Regions from separate parts of the Homo sapiens genome. Here region 2 is linked to region 1. The links come from fine-mapping of genetic effects on gene expression. A gene starts in region 1. The other region holds a variant in brackets. All regions are shown on one strand. Distances are between the middles of the regions. Region 1 holds the start of CLVS2 (clavesin 2). Region 2 overlaps CLVS2 (clavesin 2).

The links. PIP is the estimated chance that this variant, and not a neighbour inherited with it, causes the effect.
Region 2: its variant is the best candidate, but not a certain one, in a credible set for the expression of CLVS2 in sigmoid colon (GTEx, PIP 0.81).

What each region holds. Positions count from the first base shown.
Region 1 is chr6:122,987,857-123,003,860 of GRCh38, reverse strand. It overlaps CLVS2 (clavesin 2), which reads right to left and starts at 7,626. Exons shown (of 6, transcript NM_001010852.4): 1 at 7,115-7,626; 2 at 5,695-6,642. The coding sequence starts at 6,083. LOC124901392 (a long non-coding RNA gene) reads left to right here and starts at 8,941. Exons shown (of 2, transcript XR_007059733.1): 1 at 8,941-9,279; 2 at 9,375-10,566.
Region 2 is chr6:123,052,447-123,066,657 of GRCh38, reverse strand. CLVS2 (clavesin 2) reads right to left here. Exons shown (of 6, transcript NM_001010852.4): 5 at 10,632-10,852; 6 at 1-2,984. The coding sequence ends at 2,897. Among named protein-coding and RNA genes, the nearest start is that of CLVS2, 63 kb to the right of the region's middle. The variant A/TATATA (reference allele first, on the strand shown) is at 4,790.

The DNA.
Region 1 (16,004 bases):
AAATGGAACAATAAATGTTGAATTCAGTTAACCAAGCAGGCAATGTCTTTCCTACACAACACTGAGTAGCCCACAGCTGCCCACCTGTCCCCAGCTTCTAGCACTGGTAAACAGTGTCCTCATTAGCTGCATATGACCTCTGATAGTTACTCAGCTTTACATGTTTTTTCTTCCCAGAGAGGTTACATATTGCTTAAAAGTACAAAGTATGTGTCTTTATTTGCCCCCAGTACCTACTAAAATGCTATGTACATAACAAATTCTCAAAGTGTATTTTTTTCAATTAATTTGACCAAAATATTAATCACTCAGTTTGTCATATGGTATCATAACGATCCCACATACAGGAGTATCCTTTCCTTCATGTTACGATAATAGTGTAATAGCCACTTACTATAATAGTGAAATAGATGTACCTGCCCTCAGTAAAGTAAGAGAATTTAACATTTCCCACAGAAAGGAGGAGATGTATTAATTTACTAAGGATAACTTCTTAATATACTAACTATTGGCTCATGTTTTAAAATATCTTTAAACATTTCTTTTGAGGCATCCTTTCAGGACACCGTAGTAACCTCAAGTCCTTTGCTTCTCGACCTTCTTTAAAGTTGATTTTGAAACATGAAAATAGCTTGGCTCAGGCCAGCCTTAGTCAACGTCCTACTGAAGGTTGGCACTTGTAGTTTTTGCTGTTATTTCGGGATTATTTTACTAATTATTGCATAATTGCCCCAGTTTTTGGAGATTGTCCTATTTTTGCAGAGATTCATCACCATATTCCTCCAACATTTCTCAGGACAACTTTTTTTCCTCCCCTATTTGCCATGATATGTACCAAGATTATAGTTTGGAATAAGTTGCAGTTAGCAGAGGATTTGTTAAAAGAGTTTCCCTGAAAGGAAGCAAGATGGAAGCTCTGCTGGGAGAGAAGTCCCATGGAATACATATCTGCCATTTGTGGTTTTGCCCTAACCAGTATCCACCCAAAAGATGGCAAAGCCATGCCTCCAGAATTTTTACGAAAAGGACTCCTAGACTCCAGACTCTGCCAGTAGGTATGACAATGTGAAGCAAAAAGCTGGGAATTATTTAATATGTTAATAAACTGAGAAAAGAATTCTTGAAAAATTAAGCTGAAAAATTAAACTTCTTATTTTTTTGCTTTTTTTGTTGCAGAGTAAAAATATTTCTCCATAATTATCTGGATAATTGCCCTGGACTGTTTTAATCTATTCCTGTTCATTTTATTTTATTTTATTTTATTTTATTTTATTATTTTTAGTACAATTCCAGAGATGAGTAAAGCTTTGTGATTGGCATTAATGCCCATCTGTGTAGTCTATGGCTATGTTTTAAATTGTAAGTTATCATCACCATAACCTTCTATTCTGAACATTGGCCATATTATTTTAGTAAATGCAAGCATAATCATAATTCAAACTGAACCACAAATAGCAACCATTCATACAATGTTTGCTTTTGAATGAAAAAGCCACACAATAGGAGCAAACTGACAAGTTTTTTGGGCAAATTCCAGGATAAGTTAGAGTATCATATCAATGTCTGACCAATCAGTTTTCTGCCCCTTCCAGAGCTTCGCTACTGTAAGTGGTAATCAATGTCCACTATGATAAGCCAAAGACCATGCAAGGTGGCCAGTGCTTTCTGGATTGCCACCATATTAAGAATCATTTTGGTTCTAACTGTGTTTGTTTTCGAATGGCCATTAACTAGATTCCAGATAAATGGTTGTTTGCTATACTAAAGTTCAGAGAATTACTGAGAATTACTGTTTCTAATGACTATTAACCATATTCCAGATAAATGGTTGTTTGCTGTACTAAAGTATAGTGAAGTACATACTTCTAATGAGATCTAGAGAAATAAAATATGACTTGCAGGCTGACAACTTACAGGTGAACTCTGACACTTCCTATCATCATTATGTTTCAGGTGACACAATTTCACTCATGAATATCTCCAACAATTATGTGACAGTGGATTTCAACTTCCTAGATACATGCTTGCATGCTCTAGGACCTAGAATGCCATGTACTTTCTTTCCAAGCTTCCTTTTCTCCAGCAGTGTTAACCTCTGCTAGCTTTACGGCACATTATCCTCACACCTGTTGATAAGATCCTGCGAACCATTTGAAGGTATTTGCTGAGTCCTAAGCAGGTCACTACCATTTAGGAAGGAAAACAATATGCAATACATGGAGGACGAAGGCATCTTTGTGATGCAGTGTAACAGTCAAATAGTTTTTAATTCCATGGCATTTACTTTTGTTGTCAGAAATTATGTAAGGCAATCTAAAAGGAGATAAAATTATATGAATCTTTTCCAAGGTACAGCTCAATAAATGTAACAGGTCATCTGGGCTTGCCCTATTGTTTTTTGGAAGAACCACAGGCCACACTGCAACTCATTTTGACATTTGAGTATTTCCATTTTTTTTTAGATTTGTTAGAAGGTGGGTACACTGTAAATATTAGGATTTTATGTTAGTCTTCTTAATGATGCCATGTCTCTCAAAAAGGCTTTGGAAATCATCCAATTCTTTACAATAACCTAAAAGTAAACTACACTAAATTGCAGCAGAAACAGACACTATTTTATTTATAGTCACTGTCTCACACGGTTTTACTGTTTTCAGTGTCCTGAAGAGCACAGAAAACTGTCCTACAAATTTCATATAGGAGAAAGCGTATATCAAATAAATCTCTACTCAGAATTCTTTTTATACAAATGCATAACTCAATTCAACTCAAATATTTATTGAGCATCTACTCTAGTTCAAGTGCCGTACTAAATATAATAACATGACAGTCTTTTTGTTAGATCAATTCTATTGGGGGTCTTTACGAATTGTTTCAAAATTCATAAAATCTTGTTTTTCCTTTTGTAGTTGGAAAATTATAAATAACCTGTTTTCCAAATAAACTGAGGCATTTTCTTCCGCCTCATTTCTAGAATTTATCTATGTAATCATCTACACTTCTCACACACTGTTTCTTTAAAACAGGCTACTTTTTAAGAAAGTTGTTGAAAGCCAGGTGCTTCACTTAACAACTCAAAGAATGTTGCCAGGATTATTTTCAGACATGCAGTCTTCTGGAGAAATCCAGGTAGCTTTGGATTGGTGGGATCAGGGCCTGGAAGGTGAGAACATCTCACTCACAGAACAGGGGAGGGATGAGGGATAAGAGAAACTAGCACATGGCATTATCCACCTAACAGAGCAATAATAGTAACTTAAACACCTAGGGAAAGAGGCAGACTTCTGTAGGAGTCAAGGAGCCTTCGGGGTAGAGGAAAGGGACTCAGGCTAAGAAGTGTTGGTAACATCCTGGCATTGGCAGAAAGGCAGCTGTCCTTTGAGTTTCAGAGCAGGAGCCAAGGACGTTTTTATGCACATGCTCCAGTGATAAAGGTTTATAGAGGGTGCAAAGGTGACAGATCTGTTTGTCTACTAGTCCCTGTCATTGGGTTATGTAGATTTAGGATAAAAGGAAGGTGGGAAAGAAGAGGGAATTATTATTTTTTTAATATAGGAAGAAATTCAACTGAAATTTTGACTAAGCTCTAAATCACTTGTATACCTTTTCACCTTGAGGTGCGATAATTTCTTGATTATACCTGTTTATTTCCAACCATAGAAATAGAATTCATAATTACAAGTCTAGACATCTTGACAGGAAATTTCTACAGAACACAGCTTCTCATTTTGTTCTAATACACATTTTAGTATTTAAGATTATGTGTAAGTTTAATGAAATGTAATTCTATATACCAATTATTAACTCCGTTTCCATTATAGATTTCTAGGGAAAGAGAATTTGATTACTAGTTGTCTGCCCTTTATATGGAAGCATGAGATAGACAACTAAAACACAGTGTCTCTAATAAATTCAGAATTATCACTTTCTCATATATATGAAAACTATAAGTGACTTTCATCTTAATTAGGTTTACAAATAATTATGAATATTAGTTCACTTATAGAAATTCATGAAAATAGGTCTGATATATATGTATGCCTCTCTGAATGCAATCTGCCCCCATAATGGTATCTCTAACAGACTTCGAGATTTATATAAATATAAAATTTCCAGGTTCCATTTCACTATAGCTCAATTAACAAAGTTCCAATCTGACATACAGAATATTAGTTTTTTCCTTGAATAAAATTTTTCAGTTCTGTTATACACAGTCATTGATTTGCATGATCCTACAATGTACTTTTAGGATGAAAAGAAAACATTTTTAAACAAAAATTGTGGTCAATGAATAAAAAGTTGTAATTCTTTAAAATTTTCAGCTACCTGATAAAAAGTGGAATAACATCTCTATAACTGGCCAAAGTAAGTAACAAAACTCCATTCCCTCTGAATGGCTAACTCTGTATGAGTTTCTTAGCATTATGAATCTTCAGGTAGTAGTTTGTCTTTCTATTTGCCTAAAAAAATTGGAGTGATTGTCAACCTAGAATTACAGGGAAAAAAATCACAATAAAATGAGAGAAAAAATAATTAAAAATATTAATTTACATTCTAAGATACCAAGACTCGGAAGCCTATCTGGAAATCTCTATGATCCATAAGCCCTCTTGGTAACTGTAAATGTCTTGTACGATGGCTCCAGAGATGATTTAAACTAACCAGATGCATTGAAAGTCACCATTCACAGAACTAAAAATACACCAATGTTTTAACAAGCAGCTTCTTATGATTCATAGCTCTGGTAGCATTTTAAGTCCCATGAAATATATTTAACTTTGAACTTAATTGAAACTACCTTGCACAAGAGCCTTTTATAATTTCTTATATCTTTCAGTCTGAGAAAACAGTTCTGAAGGAGGACAGAGAAGTGTCATTGCCTGCATTTTTCTATAATAATGTAGATAAAAAGAATATTATTTCTTCTCTATTAAGTAGCACATGAGCTCAAAAAGTCCACCAACTGACACATCTGAATATTTTCCACTTCCTTCCAAAAGATGAAAAATCACATGAGACAGGAGACAGATTCTTTAGATTAGTGGCAGGTGTAGGACACATACACCAGTCAGTGTACATTTTCAGTGTCAGCAGGCATGCTCAGCGACAGAGGATGCAACTCTTCCTTTCACTGAAGGGACACAAATCATATTATTCCTTCTTCTACACATCACCAAACAGAGAACTTCCCAAGCAACAAAACTACTTGCTTTTGGTCGAACGCCAGGCTATGCTTAAAAGATAAAACGTCAGTACCAAAGAGAGGATGATGATGATGATGATGACAATGATGATGGGTCTAGTTTAAGAATTTTTTTAGGAAGAAGGAGGAAAAGTTGTCCCCATTTTCTTACTGGTTTATCCAGCCCAATAAACTTTTTCAGAAGGTGAAACATACAGAGAAGCTTTATTTACAAGTTAAGTGATTTAGATCTCTGTGCAATAACGTGGTTAAGGTAGCACCTTAAAGCTGCAGTAGAAAGTGGGTGTTAGTGAAGTAAGTTTTAAAAGTAAAAATACAAGCCCTCCTCCCTTCCCAGGGTGCCCACCAAAAACTCATCTCCTGGTTTGTTTCTCTTTTCTCCAAGCCAAATAAACAAAAATATCAAATCTACAAAACCATGACACTACTCGGGGTAAATTCTGGAAAATGGGAGAGTAAAAGGAGAATACAAGTTTGGATTTAGGATTTACCTGCTCTGATCCCAATTGGCAGCAAAAAGGACTAGAATCTTCCTGCCATAGTGGTCCAGATTGGCCAGGCCCCCAGGGAAGCCATCCTTCAGTGCCTGCTTGATGCCAGGGTCGGTGGCCTTAAAGCTTTTGAACATGTCCAGGTTCTGCTGCCGGTACTCAAAGTACTGCGCCAGGAGGCGGAAGGCCTCAAAGTGATGAAACTTCCTAGCCCGCAAGAAGCGTAAGATGAAGGCATCATCCGTGCGCAGAAAGCCAATGTCCGGCCTGGTGATGACCATATCCCTCACCTCCTGGATGTCCTGGTGCAGCGTGTCTGGGTTTTCATTGAGCTCCAGGCGAGCTTTCTCCAGGGTCTCAGGGGAGAGACCGGCTTGCAAATGAGTCATTGTTCTGCCTATCTCTGAGCTTTCCCTCAGAAGACCTTGTTGACTGTCCCAAAGCAAACCTGGTCCTTGCCACCACCAGACTCCAGCCCCCAGACCTCCTGCTGCCTGCTTCCTCTCCCCTACAGGAAATTAATAATCTTGGTGTCCAATCAAGTGCCCTGTTGCTCCTGCTTTCCCCCAGCAAAGCTGGGGGGGCCGGGGGGTGTAAACTTCTTCCTCTGCCCCCTAAAATACAACACCCTACTTTGGCTCCCTCTTTCCTTTCCTTTAAAGAGATGTGAACCCCTGAAGGGCTCCGCACTCCTCTTCTTGTCCTTTCTCTTTCCTAACAAATCACCCCTAATTCCACCTAGCACGGGTGTTTCTGATCTTGGTACTGTCCTCTTCTCTTCTCTTCCAAGATGTAACAAAAACAACCCCCACGCACATCTCAGCCCCTGCACTGTGAATGTTCCTGCGGTCCCTGCTGAAGGATACGCCTGCCAGGGGTGGCGATGGAAATTCTGATTAATAATAAGGTAGCTCTTCAGCGCTGAGCTCCAGGGCGGAGAGAGATCATCTTTGCCAGAAAGAAAAAGAGACAGAGAGAAAGAGGGGGGAGAAAGGAGATTATTTCTCCCTGTACTTATTCAAAGACGCTATTTTTAAAAGACAAATTTGTGTGATTTATTTAAGATTATTGTGATCCAATTAGGTGAAGACTCTGCAGATAGCGCACCTTCCCACCACCCCTCTGAGATACACCGTGATCTCATAAGGCACCAGCAGGGGTTCTGGTGGCGTTGGTACCAGCGTGGGCTCCCCCAACCCCACCCCCAACTTCTGCCTTCCTCTAGCCCTTCATTTCCACGGACTTGCCGCGGGGTTGGAGAAAAGGGGGGAGGGGGAGGGAGGGGACCGGGGATATCTCTGGGAATGCACATTTCAAAAACGAAGAGAAGGGGAGGACGTTGTGAAGAATAAAATAAAAATGTCCTTATCTTTTCTATAAAACCCCAAAGCAAGAAAGAAGAAAGAGCAGCCGCTCCTACCAGCAAACCCAGAGGCGGGGTCGCTAAGCAATGCGGCACTCCCTGGCATCCATCAGCCGCGGCTTCAGCAGCGGCGGCGGCGGCGACAGCGGCATCAACTCCTCTGGGCGGGATGGAAGGAGCAGAGAAGAGGGGTGGCGGCGGGGACCCGGGCCGAAGATGCGCTCGGGAGCAGCCGCGGCCACATCGTCCGCGGGCAGCCCGCAGCCTCTCCTAGCAGGAGGGGTGAGGATCGCAGGGCTAGGGCCACCGCTGTCCCAGGTTCTCGCCTGGCCCTGCCATTTTCGCCTTCGGGAGAGAAGGTGGGGAGGAGGACGCGAACGCCTGGATGGAGAAGGCCACTCGGGCGGCCACCGCCTTTGTGAGCCCTCCGGGAGCAGCCGGGGAGGTGGGCGCAGCGGGGCGGCTGCTGCGCGGCGCTGGCCTCTCCTGGGGCTCTCCCGAGCGGTCCGAGTCAGGGTTGCCCCACCGGGCTGCGGCGGCGGCTCCGGCTGCTGCTGCTGAAAGAGGACTCGGCTCAGCCCAACTCCTCTCTAATTATCCCAGCACAGATCTCGCTGCGACGTAAGCACTCACTCAGCTCGCGCGCGCGCTCCGCTCCTTTCCCTGCCTCGTTGGGGTAGGACGGCAATTTGGGTGGCATCGAAATATCCCGAGCCCTAAGTTTAGGCTGCTCTTCGTCCCCACTCCTCAGCAGGCTGCTGAGCGGGCGTCGCCGGGCCAGGCGGGGCAACCATGCTTTCCAGCCTCCCCACGCCCCTCTCTTCGCCCTTTGTGTGCAAGACCCCAGATCAGCCTGGAGAGTAGCTGTTGTAGACGGTAATTCACATTGACACGCATTTTCTCGTTCCTGTAGGAGGCAATTTTGATGTAGAAGGAGTACGGAAACATTCTGTACTTTTCGCATTTGTTGTAGACAGAGATATTTAATTTAGAAAACACCAGAGTGGTTCCAAGACAATGTACTGATGATTAAGCCTCCGGAGGAACTTATATGAATAGTTTTTCAACCAGTCTCCCTGCTAAATTTCTGTTGAAGAGGATGAAAATGAGCACTAGGGTAAATGATAATAAAAACATAATTCTCAAAGGAAGAAAAAAATAGGAACTTCACTCATATCTCATCATAAAGCAAATATTTCTGGAAACACATACCATCCTTCCTTCAGTTGTATGCATCTGTATATGAGAATCATTATAAATAAACAGAAGTCCTTGCGCTTAATATGACTATCTATGGATTTGAGGAAAAGGGATATTTTCTATTTTCAAAACACAGCACATATTACTGAGCGTGTTACTAAGAGCAACTTTTGACTTTATAAACTGTAGAATGGGGTCTTGAATTGAAGTTAATTCAATGCAACTAATATTTACTGAGTTCCACGAGGTGTGGGGCATTTTTCTGCATTCTGTGTATAGGAGGTGGTCTTGAAGATAAGCAAATTTTGTCATTTTCTTATCTTGACATTTCTTATCTTGTCATTTTCAATGTTGATGACTATGAGAACCCTCAAAATACAGGCACACTTGTTTTTGCTCTTCTCATGGCGATGGTGTTGATAAAAAGAAAGAAGGAAAAGGGTTGTATGGTAGAGCTAGAGCATTTATTAATTAAATTAATGCAAATTAATGTAGGAACCCGAATAAGACAATAAATTACACACACACACACACACACACACACAGTCATTATTGTCAAGGAATTTATGTTTTAAATGGGGAAGGCAGAAAATAAACCACTTAAGTGTGTGTATATGTGTGTTATATATATGCACTATATATAAGGTCCTTCTAGGATTTTAAGTGATTATGACTTTCTCAAGCATGCTGAATGCAATGTGAACTGTTAAATTTTTGGTTCTCATTTTAAAACATTTGAAAAAATCATTTTTTCTAATATTTTAGAGGTTGAAGAAAATTTATGTTTCGTATCAACTGTATGAAGAAGTTTTAGTCATCACCAACATGGAGAGACAATTCTCCCTGGATCCGTTGTGTTTCTACCTGTCTTATGACCAAGGCACTAATTGCCCTTTTTTCTAGACTGTCTTCTCAAGGGTATTTGTACAGTAAATAGTCTTGGAAGATATTGGAAGATAGAGATAGTACCTCCATCTGAAACAAAGCCTTGAAAGCTGTGATATCTCTCTCCTGACCAAAAGGTAGGCAAGCTTATTTGAATTCCCTAAACTCAGAGCTATTCTGCTGTAATGCCACCCATTGTTTATGCCAGTATCACTTGATCCTCTTTTCTTAGCTATCTGTGGGAATTAGAGCTCAGGGGACCAGTCAATGCAAGATATGCAGATGCTCATACTGCCCGCTATGCCTGAGTGACAAAATCCTTTATCTCGAAGCCAAGAGTTTTGCATCTTCCATCGGCATCCATGAAACTACAGCCAGCTAACTTGTTAGCCTGTAAGTGAAGTTAAAATTCAGATCTTTCACCTTGATGAAAAAACAGTTGTTTAATTTTGTTCTCTGAGATGGACATATTAGACTATATTTTTAAGGGAATTTATAAAATAAAATGTATTTTTTGGCCCAGCATATGTTATGACCAGTATTGAAGGTTGAAGGATGACATTTTTATTATTTATTATTTACCAATAACAGAATTGCTTCAAATAGATTTATTTTAACATATCTACATATGATAGAAATAGTCTCTATCACCCAGTAGGATTGTTGGAGCAGGTCAGTTAGGTATATATAAGATTTTTAAATCATATTTACAAAACTTTAGTGATTATACTGTTATTCTCTCTCTACTTATACATTTGAACTCAGTTCTGAAACCAAAATGAATACACGAAGCCATCTAAAATTAAACAAGGTGTTTATTCAGATGACATCAGAGCATTTGATTTTCATTCAATATTAATCTACCTTGCCAAATTAATGCAAAGTAATGTAGGAACTGGAATATGAGAATAAATTATCTAAACAAAAGTATTAATTAAAGCATTATTGGAAAAATAATTAAATCAAGGACTTCAGGTGTTTTCAAGTAACTAGAAAGAAAAGTTTGGTTTACTGCTATATTTAAAATGAGTAGAGTAAGTACTTTATGTTTTAAAACATTTTATTCCCTTTATTGTTAAATAAAATATATGCACAAAAAGGAGCACAAAATAAAGATGTACGGCTCAATTCTATCTTACAAGGGAAACACACATGTAAGTGTCCAACCAGGTTAAGAAACCAAGCATTGTCAGTAGCCAGAAAGCCCCCTCCCATTCCCCTCCTAACTACTGGCCTCTTTCCAACAAAGGAAGCCACACTGTCTTTATTTTAAAAGTAATCCTTGTTTGTTTTTTTTAAATTTTACCAACTAAATAACTACAATTTTGTTTTTCTGTTTCTGAACTTAAATGTAATCATTTATATGTAATGTTATGATTGACCTCTTTCATTCAATATTAAATTTGTGTGATTTGTCTTTGTCAGTGTTGTTGTATGTAGCAGCTCCCTCATATTCAGTAATGGTGCATAAAATTGCATTTCTTTTTTTCCTGAGACGGAGTCTCCCTCTGTCACCCAGGCTGGAGTGCAATGGGGTGATCCTGGCTCACTGCAACCTGCGCCTCCCAGGTTCAAGTGATTCTCCTGCCTCAGCCTCCTGAGTAGCTGGAATTACAGGCACACGCCACCACTCCTGGCTAATTTTTGTATTTTTCGTAGAGACAGGGTTTAACCATGTTGGTTAGGCTAGTTATGAACTCCTGACTTCATGATCTTCCAGCCTCGGCCTCCCAAAGTGCTGGGATTACAGGCATGAGCCACCGCACCCAGCCGTAGAATTTCATTTTTATACACCTACTACAATATGTGTGTCATTCTACTGTGGAGGGAAATTTGGGTTGTTTTCAGTTTGGAGCTCTTATGAACCATGATGTATGAAGATTCTGGCACATGTCTTTTGGTGCACATGGAGAGACCTAGGAATGAAAATTTCTGGGTCATATGTAATGTGCATCTCCAAATTTAGTAAATAATGCCAAACTGTTTTCCAAATGGTTGTTTCACCAACCCCCAGCAATATATGAGTGTTCTTACTGTGCCATGTTCTCAGAAATCTTATTATTGTCTATAATTTTAACTTTATCCATTCTGATTTTGAACAAGGGTATTGTATTATGGTTTTGGTATGCTTTCCCATCACTACTAATGAGGTTAAACTTTCACGTTTTTTGGGCCATTTGTACATTATTTGTGTGAAGTGTCATTTCAGAGATTTTGCTGATGTTTATAGTGGGGTGTTGATTGCTTTAATATTGAATTGTAGAGCTTCTTTATAGATTCTGAATATAAACCCTTTGTCAGCTGCACATGTTGTGAATATCTTCTCCATGTCCATGGCTTGTTTCTTTCACTCTCTTAGCCCTGTCTCTTAATCAACATAATTTTAAATTTTTAGGTAATTCAGTTTTTCTCCTATGAATAGTGCTTTTTAGGTCCTGCTTAGAATATCCCATAATTACTCAGATATTTATTCTCCAGTTTACTGTCTAGAAATTTTATTGTTGTTGCCTTTCACATTTAGACTTGCAATTCACCAGATTGTATTTTGCTCATAATGTGAGAAATAGGTCAAGTAATTTTTTTCTATGTGAATAACCTGTTTACTCAGTACCATTTACGGAGACTATCAAAAAGATCATCTTTTTTTCCCTACTAGACAGCGCAACTGTTGTCACACAAAAATAATTTTTCACATGCGAGTAGATTGTGATTTAATGTAAATTTTAAACTCCACCTTTTTTTATACAACCAATATTCCTCAGTGGTTCCCAAAATGTGGGTCCCAGACCAGCAGCATTAGAATTACCTGAGAACTTGTTAGAAATGTAAACTCCCATGCCTGACATATTGAATCAGAAATCCTCCCTAAAATTCAGAGACTCACAAAGTTTTCTGCTCAGTCCTTTGAATGATTCTAATTTACACTGAAATTTGAGAATCAATGCTTTAGATTTAACCCCATATGTATCCTTTTTACTCTTCTTTATTCCTTCCCGTATCTCTGAGTTTCCATATAGTAGTGATTTGTTTGTTTTTTCACTTGAACACATTATAATGTGTCCTTTAGTACAGATCTGAGGGTTGTAAATTATTTGTTTTATTTGTCTGAAAGTTATTTTACTTTTACTCTAAAAACATATTTGTAAGCTATAGGATTCTAAATTAGCAGCTGTTTCCTTTCAATACTTTAAATATTTTTTTTCTTTTTCTCTGGCTTGTCTTATTTCTGTAGTCAAGTTAACTCAATTTTTTCATTATTCCTTTGAAAGTAATCTCTTATTTGTCTCTGCCTGATTTTATTTTCTCTTCTCATCTTTAATTTTCAGCATATTTCTGATGAGCTTTTTTTCATGTTTTTTGGCCACATAAATGTCTTCTTTTGAGAAGTGGCTGTTGATATCCTGTGCCCACTTTTTCATGGGGTTGTTTTTTCCTTATAAATTTGTTTAAGTTCCTTGTAGATTCTGGATATTAGCCCTTTGTCAGATGGATAGACTGCAAAAATTTTCTCCCATTCTGTAGGTTGCCTGTTCACTCTGATGATAGTTTCTTTTGCTGTGCAGAAGCTCTTTAGTTTAATTAGATCTCACTTGTCAATTTTGGCTTTTGTTGCCATTGCTTTTGGTGTTTTAGTCATGAAGTCTTTGCCCATTCCTATGTCTGTAGATGTGTGGTGTTATTTCTGAGGGCTCTGTTCTGTTCCATTGATCTGTATATCTGTTTTGGTACTGGTATCATGCTGTTTTGGTTACTGTAGCCTTGTAGTATAGTTTGAAGTCAGGTAGCATGATGCCTCCAGCTTTGTTCTTTTTGCTTAGGATTGTCTTGGTTATATGGGCTCTTTTTTGGTTCCCCATGAAATTTAAAGTAGTTTTTGTAATTCTGTGAAGAAAGTCAATGATAGCTTGATGGGGATAGCATTGAATCTATAAATTACTTTGGGAAATATGGTCGTTTTCACGGTATTGATTATTCCTATCCATGAGCATAAAATGTTTTTTCATTTGTTTGTGTCCTCTCTTATTTCCTTGATCTGTGGTTTGTAGTTCTCCTTGAAGAGGTCCTTCACATCCCTTGTAAGTTGTATTTCTAGTTATTTTATTCTCTTTGGAGCAATTGTGAATGGGAGTTCACTCATGATTTGGCTCTCTGTCTATTTTGGTGTATAGGTACTCTTGTGATTTTTTGCACATTGATTTTGTATCCTGAGACTTTGCTGAAGTTGCTTATCAGCCTAAGGAGATTTTAGACTGAGACGCTGGGGTTTTCTAAATATACAATTATGTCATCTGCAAACAGAGACAATTTGACTTCCTCCCTTCCTATTTGAGTGTCCTTTACTTCTTTTTCTTGCCTAATTGCCCTGGCCAGAACTTCCAATAGTATGTTGAATAGGAGTGGTAAGAGAGAGCATCCTTGTCTTGTGCCAGTTTTCAAAGGGAATGCTTCCAGCTTTTGCCCATTCAATATATTGGCTGTGGGTTTGTCAAAAATAGCTGTTATTATTTTGAGATACATTCCGTCAATACCTAGTTTATTGAGAGTTTTTAGCATGAAGCGGTGTTGAACTTTATCGAAGGCCTTTTCTGCATCTATTGAGATAATCATGTGTTTTTTGTCATTGGTTCTGTTTATGTGATGGATTACATTTATTGATTTGTGTATGTTGAACCAGCCTTGCATCCCAGGGATGAAGCCAACTTGATCATGGTGAATAAGCTTTTTGATGTGCTGCTGGATTCGATTTGTCAGTATTTTAATGAGGATTTTTTCATTGACGTTCTTCAGGGATATTTCCCTGAAGTTTTCTTTTTGTTGTTGTTGTTGTGTCTCTGCCAGGTTTTGGTATCAGGATGATGCGGCCTCATAAAATGAGACAGGGAGGAGTCCCTCTTTTTCTATTGTTTGGAACAGTTTCAGAAGGAACGGTACCAGCTCCTCTTTGTAACTCTGGTAGAATTCGGCTTGAACCCATCTGGTCCTGGGCTTTTTTTGTTTGGTAGGATATTAATTACTGCCTCAATTTCAGAACCGATTATTGGTCTATTCAGGGATTCAGCTTCTTCCTGGTTTAGTCTTGGGAGGCTGTATGTATCCAGGAATTTATCCATTTCTTCTAGAATTTCTAGTTTATTTGAGTAGAGGTGTTTATAGTATTCCCTGATGGTAGTTTGTACTTCTGTGGGATCAGTGGTGATCGCCCCTTTATCATTTTTTATTGTGTCTATTTGGTTCTTCTCTCTTTTCTTCTTTATTAGTATGGCTAGCAGTCTATCTGTTTTGTTAATCTTTTCAAAAAACCAGCTCCTGGATTCATTGATTTTTTAAAGGGTTTTTCGTGTCTCTGTCTCCTTCAGTTCTGCTCTGATCTTAGTTATTTCTTGTCTTCTGCTAGCTTTTCAGTTTGTTTGCTCTTGCTTCTCTAGTTCCTTTAATTGTGATGTTAGGGTGTTGACTTTAGATCTTTCCCACTTTCTCCTGTGGGCATTTAGTGCTATAAATTTCCCTCTATACTCTGCTTTAGCTGTGTCTCAGAGATTCTAGTATATTGGTTCTTTGTTCTCATTGGTTTCAAAGAACTTATTTATTTCTGCCTTAATTTTGTTATTTACCCAGTAGTCATTCAGGAGTAGGTTGTTCAGTTTCCATGTAGTTATGTGGTTTTGAGTGAGTTTCTTAATCCTGAGTACTAATTTGATTGCACTGTGGTCTGAGAGACTGTTTGTTATGATTTCTGTTCTTTTGCATTTGCTGAGGAGTGTTTCACTTCCAATTATGTGGTCAATTTTATAATAAGTGCGATGTGGTGCTGAGAAGAACGTAAGTTCTATTGATTTGGGGTGGAGAGTTCTGTAAATGTCTATTAGGTTCTCTTGGTCCAGAGCTGGGTTCAAGTCCTGAATATCCTTGTTAATTTTCTGTCTCGTTGATCTGTCTCATATTGACAGTGGGGTGTTAATGTCTCCCACTATTATTGTGTGGGAGTCTAAGTGTCTTTGTAGGTCTCTAAGAACTTGCTTTATGAATCTGAGTGCTTCTGTATTGGTTGCATATATATTTAGGATAGTTAGCTCTTCTTGTTGCATTGGTCCCATTCCCATTATGTAATGCCCTTATTTGTTTTTTTTTAATCTTTGTTGGTTTAAAGTCTATTTTATCAGAGACTATGATTGCAACCCCTGATTTTTTTTTTCTTTCCATCTGCTTGGTAAATATTCCTCCATCCCTTTATTTTGAGCCTATGTGTGTCTTTGCATGCGAGATGGGTCTCGTGAATACAGCACACCGATCAGACTTGACTCTTTATCCAATTTTCTAGTCTGTGTCTTTTAATTGGGGCATTTAGCCCACTTATATTTAAGGTTAGTATTGTTATGCGTGAATTTGATCCTGTCATTATGATGGTAGCTGGTTATTTTGCCCATTAGTTGATGTAGTTTCTTCATAGTGTCACATGGTGTTTACAATTTGGTATGTTTTTGCAGTGGCTGGTACCAGTTTTTCCTTTCCATATTTAGTGCTTCCTTCAGAAGCTCTTGTAATGCAGGCCTGGGGGTAAAAAACCTCTCAGCATTTGCTTGTCTGTAAGAGATTTTATTTCTCCTTTGCTTATGAAGCTTAGTCTGGCTGGATATGAAATTCTGGGTTGAAAATTCTTTTCTTTAAGAATGTTGAATATTGGCCCCCACTCTCTTCTGGCTTGTAGGGTTTCTGCAGAGAGATCTGCTGTTAGTCTGATGGGCTTCCCTTTGTGGATATGCCAATTTTTCTCTCTGGCTGCCCTTAACATTTTTTCTTTCATTTCAACATTGGTGAATCTGATGATTATGTGTCTTGCGGTTGCTCTTCTTGAGGAGTATCT
Region 2 (14,211 bases), 64 kb before region 1:
AGGCAAACATCACTGACAACATAAGAGAAGTTATTTATTTTTAAACCAGCTTTGGAATCACCTGCCCCTGAAATAACTGGAAGAAAGAAAAAATATCAGAAATAGAAGATGGAACAGGCAGGGTGAAAGAAGTAAATGGACTACTGGACCATTCCAAGTCAAATGCGATAATTCTTTGAAGCCCGCAAATTTCAAGTGACAAGACAACTAAAATAGCTCTCGAAGTACAGAGGAAAATTCATTAGGGCAAACAGTCTAGTGTGTTAGTGTGTGTGTAAGAGTGTGTGTGTGTGTGTGTATGAGAGAGAGAGAGAGAGTGGAGGTATACTATTGCAATTAAAATACAAGAGTATAGGAGTGCTTATAGGCATACAACTATAGTGTATAGGTTATTCATAGACATAGGATGTGACACAGAATATCATGAAGGGAAAAATTCCTAAACAGTGCTAGATAGCTGGTGCTGAGGGGTAAATTTATAAAGTTGAATGAATATCCCTTGACTAAGGTTCACAAACATTACTAGAAAATGAGTTTATTCACAGAATGAACTAGATATGGTAATTTCAAAAGGCATCATCATTGTAATTTGTTCATTCATTTTAAAATATTTTACACAATCTAGCCAACTCTCAATTGCTCATCTAAAGATGAGCAGTAATGCAATGCAAACTTTCCAAATGTGGGTCTGGGAGACAGTGTGAATGATACTTATAATTAGATAGGCATACATATAAAATATGCCTTTCTAGTTATTTTTATATATGACACTAACTTTACGATAGGGGAAAGAAGCTGCCAATGCTGGTTGACATCTGAAACTGGCAGAATTCTGAAAACTGGCAATAAATGGTACACATCAAGAGAAACTCATGAGAATGAAAAGTTGACTGCCCTCTGCACTTACAATGTTTCTATTTTATTCCAATGGATTATACTGCCTAAGATTTATATAGTCTAAAAAGCCCATGGCTACAAAATGTATGTCAGGTAGGCAAGAATGTAAGAATATCAATGGTTAGAATTCTTATAAAGGTAAGAACTGCTGAGACATGTTGTCCCCAGTGCATTCCAATCTCTGTAAAAGTCACAAGGAGAGCAGAGTGCCTGACAGTCATTATTCTTCTGCACTTGACTGGAGGTTGGCATTATTAAGGTATCTTTCATTTGTGTTAATTAATGTATTTTTACACACATGAGGCAGTCCATTGATACACTGTACATTGGTGTATTCAGCTTGCTTTTACAATTTTTGGCTGCAGAATTATAACAAATTTTGGGAGCTTTTGGCCAAAAAATATGAAGGCTGACACATGCCTTTATTTTTGTTGGTTTCCAAGAGTTTCTGAGATATTTTTCTTCCAAAAGAATACTTTAATGGTAAACTCTCAATCTCAAAATTTATTATGGGTGATAAAAATCATTTTTTCACATTGAAATTTAAAATTAAAAAATTAAGATTTGCTGTAATTGTATAAATTTTATGAAATAAAATGTTAAATATGCAAATTTCTAAATCCACGTATAAATGATTACATGTTGTCATAGATGCCTTCCAATAATTTCATTATATCTCCTGAATATAATGTGTTTTTTCAGTCTTTTCTGAAAGAAATTGTGGATAAATAGGATCACGAAGATAATTAACTTAAATTTGAAAATAAAATTGGCTTTCTGTCACCTGATGCTACCTACACTATGTTGAGACCTATTGCTTCTTTGAAGGAAAAATATAGTTCAAATAAGATGGCACATATGTAAGATTGCATTATAAATTAACTTGGAATTCCTTTAAATAGGTACACTGAAAGTCAGTTTCACTATTTCTCCTTTTCATTAACTTCAGTGGAAGTAGTTTTCCAGAGTTATCTCATGTAATTATCCATAAGATCATTGAATATCTATGATTTATTTTATAAGCCTGTCACATTAAGGATTTATTAGAGCTCAGTAAAAATATATATGTGTGAATATATATATATATATACTTTTTAACCAGTGCACAACAATTAGAAATTAGCCCCTCATCTGTAAGTGGAAAATTTTATGTTCAAAATTAGCTGTCAGAACACTGTTCACATGAGTTCTCATTCTCTTAGTCAAAGAGTTTTGGAGGGGAAATGTACTTAGAGTACATTAGGAAGAAATATAATAGGGTCTTGAATAAAGGGCACATTGTGAAGACAGCAATTTAAAAAGAATCCACTCTTTTTTACATTTCTACGTCTTAATTGAGGAAACACATCTTTTCACAAGATTCCAAGAATTAAACAACATAGAAGAGTTCAAGTGTTCAGTTTACCAGCTCATCTGCCATTCCTTGCCTCCAAAATGCAAGGCCAATGATAGTTACTAAGACACATTTCTCTGAAATGAAAATCACTAGACAGGAAATACATTAATCATAAAATTTCCTGGAATCACTTAGTTGTGTGTGCCCGTTAAGAGTATGTTTGAATACTGACAGAGTTTCAGAGAAAAACAATGAAACAATCACTATGAGAGCTGAAATATGGCTTCATAGGAAAGAGGGCTACATTTAATTAGCTTTGACTGTGTCTTTTCTGCTTTTTGTTATAGTTCATAACACTGGCATGGACTTTTGAGCCAACCTTTTTCCAAACTGAGTTACTACTGAAATTTACAAACTTGACATGAAGATTACATTATATTTACAAACAACTTGGCACTTACAGAATAAATTATTGACATTTTAAAAATCCAGCCCAGGGCCCCCATGGTTCAGGCCAAGGAAAGCCTGATGCCTTGTTATATATTATGCTACATTAACATGAATAAGTCGGTTTCCAGCTGGTAATTCCTCTACAGTGTTGTCCCTGTTGCTGAAAACCAATACTTTCCATTTCTAATCCATGAAGGGGATGTAGAGAAGTTATTAGTCCAGAGAAAGCAATGGTTGCATGTTTTCTTCCTCATTTTTATCCATGCGTTTTAGTACTGTAGGATCCACTACTGATTGAGATCTGGAAAGGATAAAGCCAACGTCAGTGAGTTATTACCAGGTAATTGTGCAGATGACATTCTCTCCTCTTTTTGTCATTACTTCTCCCAGGAATGTGAATTCCCTTCCTCTATATCAAGAAATTTATGAATTGTGGATGTTGCACATTTAGAGAAAAACCACTGCTGGTGATGTTTTGCACTGGAGTGAGGAAAAAAATCCCCTCTGGCCTCTAAATAGAATAGTGAGCCGCCAATGATTCTAAATAGACAATACCAGGCTTAAGAGCTCTTCACAGTTAGGGAAGATTCTTTTCTTTGAGATATCACAAATTTCTAGTGTAGGATAGATGTTTTCCAATAAAACATCTCCAAATGGAAAAAAATTACAGTGAAATGATTATTATGATAAACTAAATAGAAATAACAGGAGGCTTAATTCCAGTCTTTAAAAAACATATGAAAAAAAAGCAACAAGAATGCACCTTTTTTGACCGTCATTTTTTAACTTTAATGATTGTATCAACCAAAAGATCAAAATTTGTATGTTTCTGTTAAATGTCCTAGTAGAATATCCAAATAAAATCAACCTTCATCTTGAGAATTTCATGGAACAGTTATAGATTTTTAAAAAGTAAAACCCCCTCTTGTTTAGGCAGCAACAGTTTATGATTAGGAAAGCACATAATTTGAAAACCCACTTATACATGCCTTTGATAGCAGGTGGGGCTTCTGTCTCAATTTGTCATTAGGAAACAATATGAGAATGGGAAAGAGGAAAATCAATGAAACATGCTCTGTCATGGCAGGAAGCTGCCATCTTAATAGCTGTAGCATTTAGTAAGCAGCTGCCCTTTTAGAATTCTCCTTGGTAATGAATTCTTCCCCTGCTGCTGCATTCCAGCCAATTGGCTTTTGCTGTGGCAATATGCCTCTTAGCAGACCTCATTAACTTCTGAAAAGACTATAAGCTAAAACACAACTGCACATGCAAATGAAAAAGAACAGCAACGGAACTAATTATCAAAGAAAAAATAATTACAGGATTAACTGATAAACTGATTAAATTTAAATAAACTTAAATTATTTCCTAAAGAGGGAATGAAAATGAAGGTGAAAGCATTAAAAAATTGAGAGATTTTGTTTCCTAAGTGTCATTTACACTATTTTATCTCAATATTAAATAGGCATTAGATGCCTATCATGGAAAAAAAAGACTTGCTAAAGTTGTGTGTGTGAGCGTAAGACAGAATAGATGAGGATATAAGATAATAATAGGATAAGATATGAATATAAGAATAGGATGAGGAAAAGGACAATAAGGAGAAAGAGTAGAGAGAATAGAGATTTTGTGTCACTTTTAAATGCAATAATACATAATCATCTTTATTTAAAGTACATGAATAAAATACTTTTTAACAAAGGAGACAATTGCACAAAAGACTAAGTAATTAGACTTCTAACTTTGTTTTTAGGTAAGACCCAACCAAGCAAATTGGCTCTCAGATGAATTCATGTTCAAAGAGAAAGAGGCTCATTTAATGTCCTGTGCTAAAGTATTAACCTGACAACTGATATGCACTAGACTGCAAGTTCCATAAGCAGGGACTTTATCAGTTTCTTTCCTTATTGTGAATACAACATGCATCATAGGGCTTGGAAAAGAGTAAGTTCTTCATGTCTTGACTTCTAGCCAGTAAATAATTTCCAAATTGAAAGAACTTCAGTATTAAGAACTCAAAATGAAGAGTAATGAGGATAATAAAGAAAGCAATTCTGTTTTCTTTATAGAAAATAAATTTTAAATTTTTCATAAAATTAAATATAT[A/TATATA]AATATTGAGGTATATCCTAATAATATTCCATAAGTACATACCAAAGCTCTTCAGACTGCACAAGGCACAATAGTTAAGCATTTGCCCTAATATACTATTACACATTATACAGACATGCTCACATATACACATTCTAAGTCTGTGTGTTTCCTGACTGTTTTTGAAAACAATATTAGAGAATATGACATTTTTAACAAAATATTTTAAATTACAGTGTATTATTCAAGCTGGGATTAAGTTTCTAGTTTGCTTTTAGTATGCACTACAGATATGAGGATTGTTGGATGATGAATGCTGATTCCATATGTGAAACAATGCCTCAATCACAGAACAAAAGTGAGTCAGAAACAATTTGTGATTAATTCTTTTTCTTTTTGGTATTTAGTTGTCCCAAGTGTATAGTTATTTTAGTCCAATTTTTTTTTAGTCTCTTTTATGACAGAACAGGATTATTTGTGCAGGATCAGAAGTATTAATGAATTGATTTATTCTAGCCACAGCAGAGGGAGCTATCATTAACTCATACATCTCAGAGGTTTCTGGGTTTTTTTTTTTCGGTTTTGTTTTGTTTGAGGCAAAGACTCACTGTGTCACCCAGGCTGGAGTGCAGTGGCACCATCTCGGCTCACCGCAACCTCCGCCTCCCGGGTTCAACTGATGCTCCCACCTCCCCCAAGTAGCCAGGATTACAAGCGTGCACCACCATGCCTGGCTAATTTTTGTATGTTTAGTAGAAATGAGGTTTCACCATGTTGACCAGGCTGGTCTCAAACTCCTGACCTCAAGTGATCCACCCGCTTTGGCCTCCCAAAGTGCTGGGATTACAGGCATGGGCCACTGTGCCCAGCCCATCTCAGGGGTTTCTATGCAGCTTCTATTGTTTTCACAATGAATAACTTTTCTTTCTTTCTTGAAAACTAGTAATTTAGATTTAGATATCCAATACTCATTTCTCATGCATCTACAATACATAGTGTTTAAGAAACTAGATTTCGGACAGAAGTAGATCATAACTCCAGTTGCTAATAACAGCAGTTTACTAGCTGTGTGATCATGGGAAGACTAAACTTCCTAAGATTTTGTTCTTTATTGTTTAAGATGGGAAAAATAATACCCACATCATAAAGTTATAATGAGTATCAGATGCAACAATGCATCCATAAACCCCGGCACAAATTCTGGCATATGGTTAATGAAATGGCTCATGGAATACTATTGCCTATGTACAGATATTAGCATTGCTACTTTGTAGTTATGCAACATGTGGAAGTCACTTACCTTTCCTGTTTCTCAGTCTCTCTATCAATAAAATGGGGATACTACTACTTTATTACTTGCTTCAAGAAGCAAATGAATCAACATACATAGAGCATTGGAACAGGGTTTGGCACAAAGCAATAATAAATGCTTAACCTTATTCAATAATAATATATTCAATATTCAATAATCAGAAGTGCGTATCATGAAATAGGTATGGTTACTTTACTCACTACTGTTATGTGCCAGGCACTATCTTAGGCATTGGCGGCATAAGGTAAAAGACACTCTCCAGTTCTAAAATACTTAGTCTAGTGAACTTTGCATATTTACACATGACTATGCTTCTCCTCCAGAAATTAATACAAAAAGACAAGTCATCTTTTTGCATGTCTAGCTACATTTACCCAAAAGAAGAATTATCCACAACTCTTTAGTGATGGAATTATTTTCTCCCTCTTAATCTAAAGATATCATAAAACTACAAAAAGAAAAGGGCCAAGGGGAATCAGTGTGGAACATAGGAGCAATCTTCTCTTGTCCTGGATGGCGAACTGCCATTCCCTGACATAGAGAACATGAGAATCAAGTGCAACACCTTTCTTAATCTCATTTTTCAGTTTTCCATAGAATCATAAATGTTTCATATGATACCAAACGTACACCAAACAATGCCTAAAACTCTAATCAGCCCATGACACCAGCAGGAAACTCAGGACTGGGGCCACTAATGGGCTACAAGCAAAGTGTGTAGGGGAGAAAATGGTCTATTTAATTGGAGAAAAGAATCAGGATACAAAAGGTGGATAGACTAGGCTATATCTAACAAGATGGGCCTTAATCAATTAAAATAATGTGATTGGAGGACAAACCTAAACAATAGGAGGATATGGATTGGTAAGTAAAGAGACTTTCCAGTTTTAGGAACCCCCATACCAGTCAGTTTTGGCTGCTTGAACAATAGCAACAGTGACAACAACAGCAACCCAAAGAAGCCAGTGAGGTCTATCCTGCAAAGCCAGAACTCTGCAACTTAAATGCAAGTGCCAATACCAGGTTAGATGTTCCCTATTCAGTTATGAATACTGCACTTAAAGGGGGCCACTGATGGGCAGCAGAGCACTCCTCCATGCATTCAACTGGTATTTCCTGAGCACCCTCTGTTTTTCCAGGACCTTCTCCAGGCACTGGGGATTCAGAGAATAAGGTAAACATAGACAATATGGTCTCCTTGAAGCTTACTTTGGGGTGGGGTGCAGATATAAAATTAAACAAAATCAGCAATTTCAAAGGCTAAAAGTGTTATGAAGAGAATAAAATAAAGAAGGGTGATGGACAGGGAGTGACCAGAATGAAGAGGAAACAGAACTGACTAAGACCAGGTGGGTGACAAAGATCAAAAGACTCTTTCGAGGAGCTGACCTTTGATTGGGACCACCCATTTGAAGATGAAGGAAAAGAACATTCCAGGTGGCGGTGACAAGGGCAAAAAGAGAAGACTAATGTGTCTGAAAAGCAGGGGAAGAGGAAGCAGACAGGATACACCTGGAGGAGAGAGGGAGGCAGGGTCAGATCAGGTAGCATCTTGTAAGCCATGATAAGGAGGTGATTGTATTCATTGTATAAATAGCAGTCATTAAAAATATAAAGCTAAGGCCTGCCTGGTGGCTCACACCTGTAATCCCAGTGCTTTGAGAGGCTGAGGCAGGTGGATCACTTGAGGCCAGGAGTTTGAGACCAGTCTGGGCAACATAGTGAGACCTGGTCTCTACAAAAAAATAAAAATAAAAAATTAACTAGTCATGGTGACAGGCACTTGTAGTCCCAGTTACTTGTGGAGCTGAGGTGGTAGCATTGCTTGAGTCCAGGGAGTTGGAGGCTGCAGTGAGCCATGATCACGCCACTGCGCTCCAGCCTGGGCAACACAAAGAGAACCTGCCTCAAAAAAACAAAAATAAAAATAAAAATAAAGCCAAGATGTGACATGGTCTGATTCATATTTTAAAAAGATTTTTGGATTGCCATGTGGATAATAAATTGGGAGTAGGGGAGCAGGTAAGGCTGGAATCAACAAGAACAGTTAAATAATTTTTAGGGGGTGGGTGCAGCTGAGCAGAGTGCAGGTGATGTGTAGAAGATACAGAGAAAAATGTGCTCACGTGATGGGCCACATGAGGAATCATGCCTCAGGCAGAATGGCTGAAGAAAAAGGGCCTCATTAGCTGACAAAGAAGAACACTAGTGGACACCGATGACAGCTGCCTCCAAATCCTTATGTAGTTCAGTTCTGAGAAAGGGCCTCTGTGCCACGAAGGGTAGGCAGGCTTTATGTCAGTGGTGTGAAAGACTCCACATCTCATGCAGTGGAGCCCTCTGCTCCACTATATATAGACTACCTAACGTTGAGGATGCAGTATCTGTTTAACACGGTTGTTGTGAGGATTTATAAATTAATGTAAAAAAAAGACACCTACTTCATGAAAAGTACCTAGTAAATGATAGATTATAACAACTGTTATCATTAGGATTATTTTATTAGAAGAAAACTATTTTAGGGGGAGTTGCTTTTAACCACTTTTGTTTTTAAAAACTTTCAAATAATTTGATGAAATATATGACTTCTCCCCAGAAAATATATGCATGACATATACATATAGTACATTCATACTTACGCACACAAAATTTTGCATACAACTTTTAGCACTTAACAGAATCCTTTGAGAGCCCATCCATGAACCCCTTAGGAGAGCAGAGATCTTGAGAAGTTCTGTTCTAAAAGAAGGGAGTTAAGAAGCCTAAAGTTGGTTTAAATATAAGCTTGCTAACTAGTGGAAAATTAGAGCAGGGAAAATTTCTGGCCTTTCCGTTCTCTCCAAGGAGTTGTGCAGCAGCCTGGAGAGAGGAAATCAATGCACACACATACTAACAACAATCACAACAGAGGCAGCAGCATAAAAGAGACCATCCTGGCCAGGCGCAATGGCTCACTCCTGTAATCCCAGTATTTTGGAGGCCGAGGCAGGTGGATCATGAGGTCAGGAGTTTGACACTAGCCTGGACAAGATGGTGAAACCCTGTCCCACTAAAAGTACAAAAATTAGCTGGGTGCAGTGTTGGGAGCCTGTAATCCCAGCTACTCCAGAGGCTGAGGCAGGAGAATCCCTTGAACTAGGGAGGTGGAGGTTGCAGTGAATCATGATCGCGCCATTGCACTCTAGCCTGGGAGACAGAGCTAGACTCATCTCAAAAAAAAAAAAAAAAAAAAAAAAAAAAAAAGAAGACCATCCTTAAAGAACAGGCACATTACTCCATGAGTCAGAGCTATGGGCAAAGGGCCTTAAGGCTTTCATCAGAGAAGGATGCCAGACATTGGCATGACCCGTTCATTGTCCTTGTATCCTCCCTGAGCTAGGTGAGGGGAGACTTGCAGGGGCTACGGTGCCCATACTTCTGTGAATGTGAAATGAACTGGAGAAGTAATATTTGTTACTGTTATCCAAATGGACCCTGAGCTGTGGTTGCCTGGGAAGTCTGAGAATTACACATCTACTTGTTTGTGACAGAATGCAAACTCAGAGCCAGGTATGCATTTGTGCAATGTCTGACAACTCCCCAGACTATTGATTGAAAGATAAAAGGCATAAAAGTGCTGTGAGAGTCAAAGCAGGTATTTGGACTCTGACTCAACAATGAACTCTATAAAGATTAAAACTGAAGTGAAATACAATGTTTTGTACCAGTAATGTTTAGACCTTTAGACAAAGACTTGGCAGAGATATTGAAAAAGGACCAGAAACTTTGAACACAGTGTTTGAACTGGTGTGTGTGGTTGCTTTCTTCAAAAGAAATCTTACACAGAAATCCAATAAATTGCTTATAGGAGAGTTGCTCCCACAACAGTGGAAATGGGCACTCTCTCTACTCCACCTACTTGGCCTAAGGCACCCCCTCAAAACCTTTGGTTTCTCAGGATACAATTTGAAAACCACCAGATTTGGTGACTTCCAAGGGCCCTGCTAGACTGTCTGTGAATTTGGAACAACACTAAGTTGAGGTTACCTCAAATTACTTTATCTTTTCCTTAATTGACAGATAATTGCATATAGTTATGGAATACAATGTGATGGAAAAATACTGCATGATTTCACTTATATGTGGAATCTAAAAAAAGTCGAACTCATAGAAATAGATAGTAGAATGGTGGTTACCAAGCACTGGGATGAGGCAGGATGGTTTGGGGGGGTGGATAGGGAGATATTCATCAAAAAGTACAAAGTTTCAATTAGACAGGAAGAATAAGTTTGGGAGATCTATCATACATCAGGGTTACTACAGTTTTCAAATATATGATAATAATGTATTGTATATTTGAAAACCGCTAAGAGAATAAATTTTAAATGTTCTCACTATAAGAAAATGACTTTATCTTTGACTCAAAACTCTTAGACATACAATCATAGGGCATAAAGAGTTTTAAAATCCCACCAGAAAAATGTATACAGAAAAACAGAAAGCTTTGAGTTTGACTCAGGATGCCTCTCCCTGCCCTGGCCCAGCCCACTCCCCAGTCTACCTCCAGCATACCTCTTCATGGACTTTGGGGAGAGTTCCTTCTCTACTTCCTTCACAGGCATGCTGTAGGAGTCTACATTGTACTCGCTGTCATCGTCATATTCATGGTCTAGCAGTGTTCTTGCCCATGTCCCCATGTCATAAGGAGGCAGCATTCCTCCAAACTCAGAGGGCAGGATCTCAGGATGAATTAGTTGGTGTAGACTGTTCAGGTTGTTACCATGCAAAAATATCTATAAATGCAAGAAGACGGGAGGAAGGGAAAGACACAGAGGAAACTAAATACCATCTAAATCCTACAGGGGGGATGTGAGGATAGCAATAGCAAATATGAGTTTCGCATGTCTGTTAAAGTACTTTAGCCAGTCATCTACTCTGTAAAACAGGCAGAGCTGGTACTGTTATCCTAATATATCATACCAAAATCCTGAGGCTCAGACACTTTAAGTAATTTCTGGAAGGTCAGAGAGTTATTGGGTAAAAGAGCTGCAACCACAAATTTGGTTTCCTTCTTCATAGGCAGGGACATGGGCAGAATAATACGTACATGCTGATCTGTACATCATCCTGGTGTTAGTTGTGCAAACTTGATGATGTGTATAATGAATGCTGTGAAAACAGACCCTTCTCATAAGGGACTCATCAATTACAGAGCCTATGCAAGTTATTACACCAAAAAGCTGTCACTTGCAAGGCTTTCTCTTTATCATCAATAAAAATAAGAATATTGTAACCACTAAATTACTGTTTTATAATGCAAAGTGGGTGATGTAAATAACCAAAGTAGATTAGCATCGTCATAATGAAAGGCTGAGTGAAGTTCATGTCCCAAAGGACATTATGTTCTGTAATGTTGCCAGTATCTTCTCTACTAAAGATTTCCATACTGACTGTCCAAATAGAAAAAGAAACAATGAATTAAAAATGTAAAGCTGTATGCATACCTTAATCATTTTGTCTATGATTATAGACAAAATGCTCTCCTCATTTTTCCTAAATGGAATCCAGTCTGGCTTTGTCTCTTACCACTGAATGAAAACAACTTTTGTCAAGGTCCTTCTCATTGCTAAATTCAGTATCCAATTCCCAGTCCTTATATATCTTTAACCCTCAGTAGCAATGGGTATAATAGATGACTCTGTTTATTGAAACATTTTCTTCATGCATTTCTGATTTTCTTCTACCATCCTAAATAGTGCTTTAAAAAAAAAAAAACTTGAGGCATATTCAAGCCACATACTCAAGATTTGTTTTTCCATAAACTGCTACCTTTGCTCTTCTTTCATTTCAGTTTCAAAACTACAGATTGGCCTTCTCTGCTACAACACTGTTGTCTCATCTACATTTATATAATATTTATTTCAAAATTATAGTAAGTCATAAAAATAATTTCATTCTTGAGTTCAAGAAGAATAAGCTAACACATTCATATTTGCTTTCTGTACCTTCAGAATCCACTGAAGTAAATACATTGGGAAACAAAGAAAGATTACTCTACAATATCAAATAAAATTAGAAGATGGTAGTTGCCACTTAATAAGCATTTTCAACAAATTATAGAAGAGTAAAAGCAGAAACAGCAGGTCACTGGCCAAAATAGGCAGAGCAAACAGCTGTCTGGAGTACATGACATGAGGCCCACAGGAGGTGGAAGAGGCCATCTGCCCCAAAGTACACCAGGTTAACTGCAAACTTTACACCTTCCCTCTCCTGTCTGAGGGCACAACAGCCAGTATTTATATCCAGGAAAACACATGTGCACCCCTGTGTTCTTCTTATAAGAAGAAATGAAAATAATTTTCCTGTGAAAGTTAAGTTATGGCACATGCAACCCTTATTTTATTAGATATATAACTTTTATTTTATCAAATGGGATCATTCACATAAGAAATCTTCTTCAACTCATGCAAGAGTCATGGTAATAAATCCTTGGAGCAGTCAGTGTAATCCTAGCACGCTACTTCCTCTCTCTTCTCTAACACTCTGTTGCCTCCTTCCGCAGCATCATTTTCCGCTTTGGCCTTGCTTCCACTTTCACTAAGAAAATAGGACAACCAGATGACATCAACCCACCCACCAGCATCTGTGTCTATGTATTTTGCCTTCACTGCTAGTACAATGAACAGATAAACCCTACAAAGGGCAACCTCTCCACCTGCGCACTAGAATTCGTCCTCTCTCCCCTACTCGGTTGTATTTCTTAACAGTTCTCTCCTATCTCTCACACATCCTCAGATTTCCTCTCTCTGCTGGATCTTTCCCATCAGAGAAAGAACATCCTGACTCCACGCCCCCCACACAGACACATAAAACCTCTCTCGGCCCTACTTCCATCTCCAGTTGCTTTCCTATTTCTCTCCTTCTCTTTATAGCAAAATTCACCCAAGGAATTGTCTATATTCATAGTCCAAATACTCTCCTCATTTTTCCTAAATGGAATCCAGTCTGGCTTTGTCTCTTACCACTGAATGAAAACAACTTTTGTCAAGGTCCTTCTCATTGCTAAATTCAGTATCCAATTCCCAGTCCTTATATATCTTTAACCCTCCGTAGCAATGGGTATAATAGATGACTCTGTTTATTGAAACATTTTCTTCATGCATTTCTGATTTTCTTCTACCATCCTAAATACTTCTTGGCAGTCTCTTTTGCTGATTGCCCTAATATCTTTTTTGTTTGTTTGTTTGTTTGCTTTTAGACAGAGTCTTACTCTGTCACCCAGGCTGGAGTGTAGTGCTGCGATCTCAGCTCACTGCAACCTCCGCCTCCTGGGTTCAAGCGATTCTCCTGCCTCAGCCTCTCGAGTAGCTGGGACTACAGGCGCGCCATCATGCCCCGTTAATTTTTTTGTATTTTAGTAGAGACGGGGTTTCACCATGTTAGCCAGGATGGTCTTGATCTCCTGACCTCATGATCCACTCGCCTTGGCCTCCCAAAGTGCTGGGATTACAGGCGCGAGCCACTGCGCCTGGCCTGATTTTCCTAATATTTTAACTGGAGAACTACTGGTCTCAGTCTTTGGATTTTTTCTCTTCTTTAACTATATTTTCTCATTGGTGATTTCTTTAAGTTCATTTTATTCAGTCAGTGGCTTTAAAATAATATCCCTGCACTAGAAATATATGTCTTGAATCCAGGCCCCTTTTTCAAACTCCATAACTGTATTTCCACTCTCCACTTAAAATATCCACTTAAATATTCAATGGCTGCTGCAAATTTAACGTGTTCAAAATTGGACTCATAATCTTCCCCCACCTCAAATATGCTCCTCCCTATCTCCAACATCAGTTAATGGTGTCACTATTCTTCCACTTTCTCAGACCAAAACTTTCAACTCAGCCCTTTACTCCCCTCATCATCTCAGTTGTCAGTAAATCTTTTTGGTGCTATCCTCAAAATGTATCCCAAATCCAATCATTCTGATTAGCTCTACCCCTACACCCATAACACAGCTACTATCCTTTCAGGTGTGCTCTTGCATGAGCCTCCTAACTGTCCTCTCTATATCCACTCTTCCACCTACACTCTATTCTCAACAGGGCAGCCAGAATGACCATGTCAAAATATAAGTCAGGTCATATCTTTCTCCTCA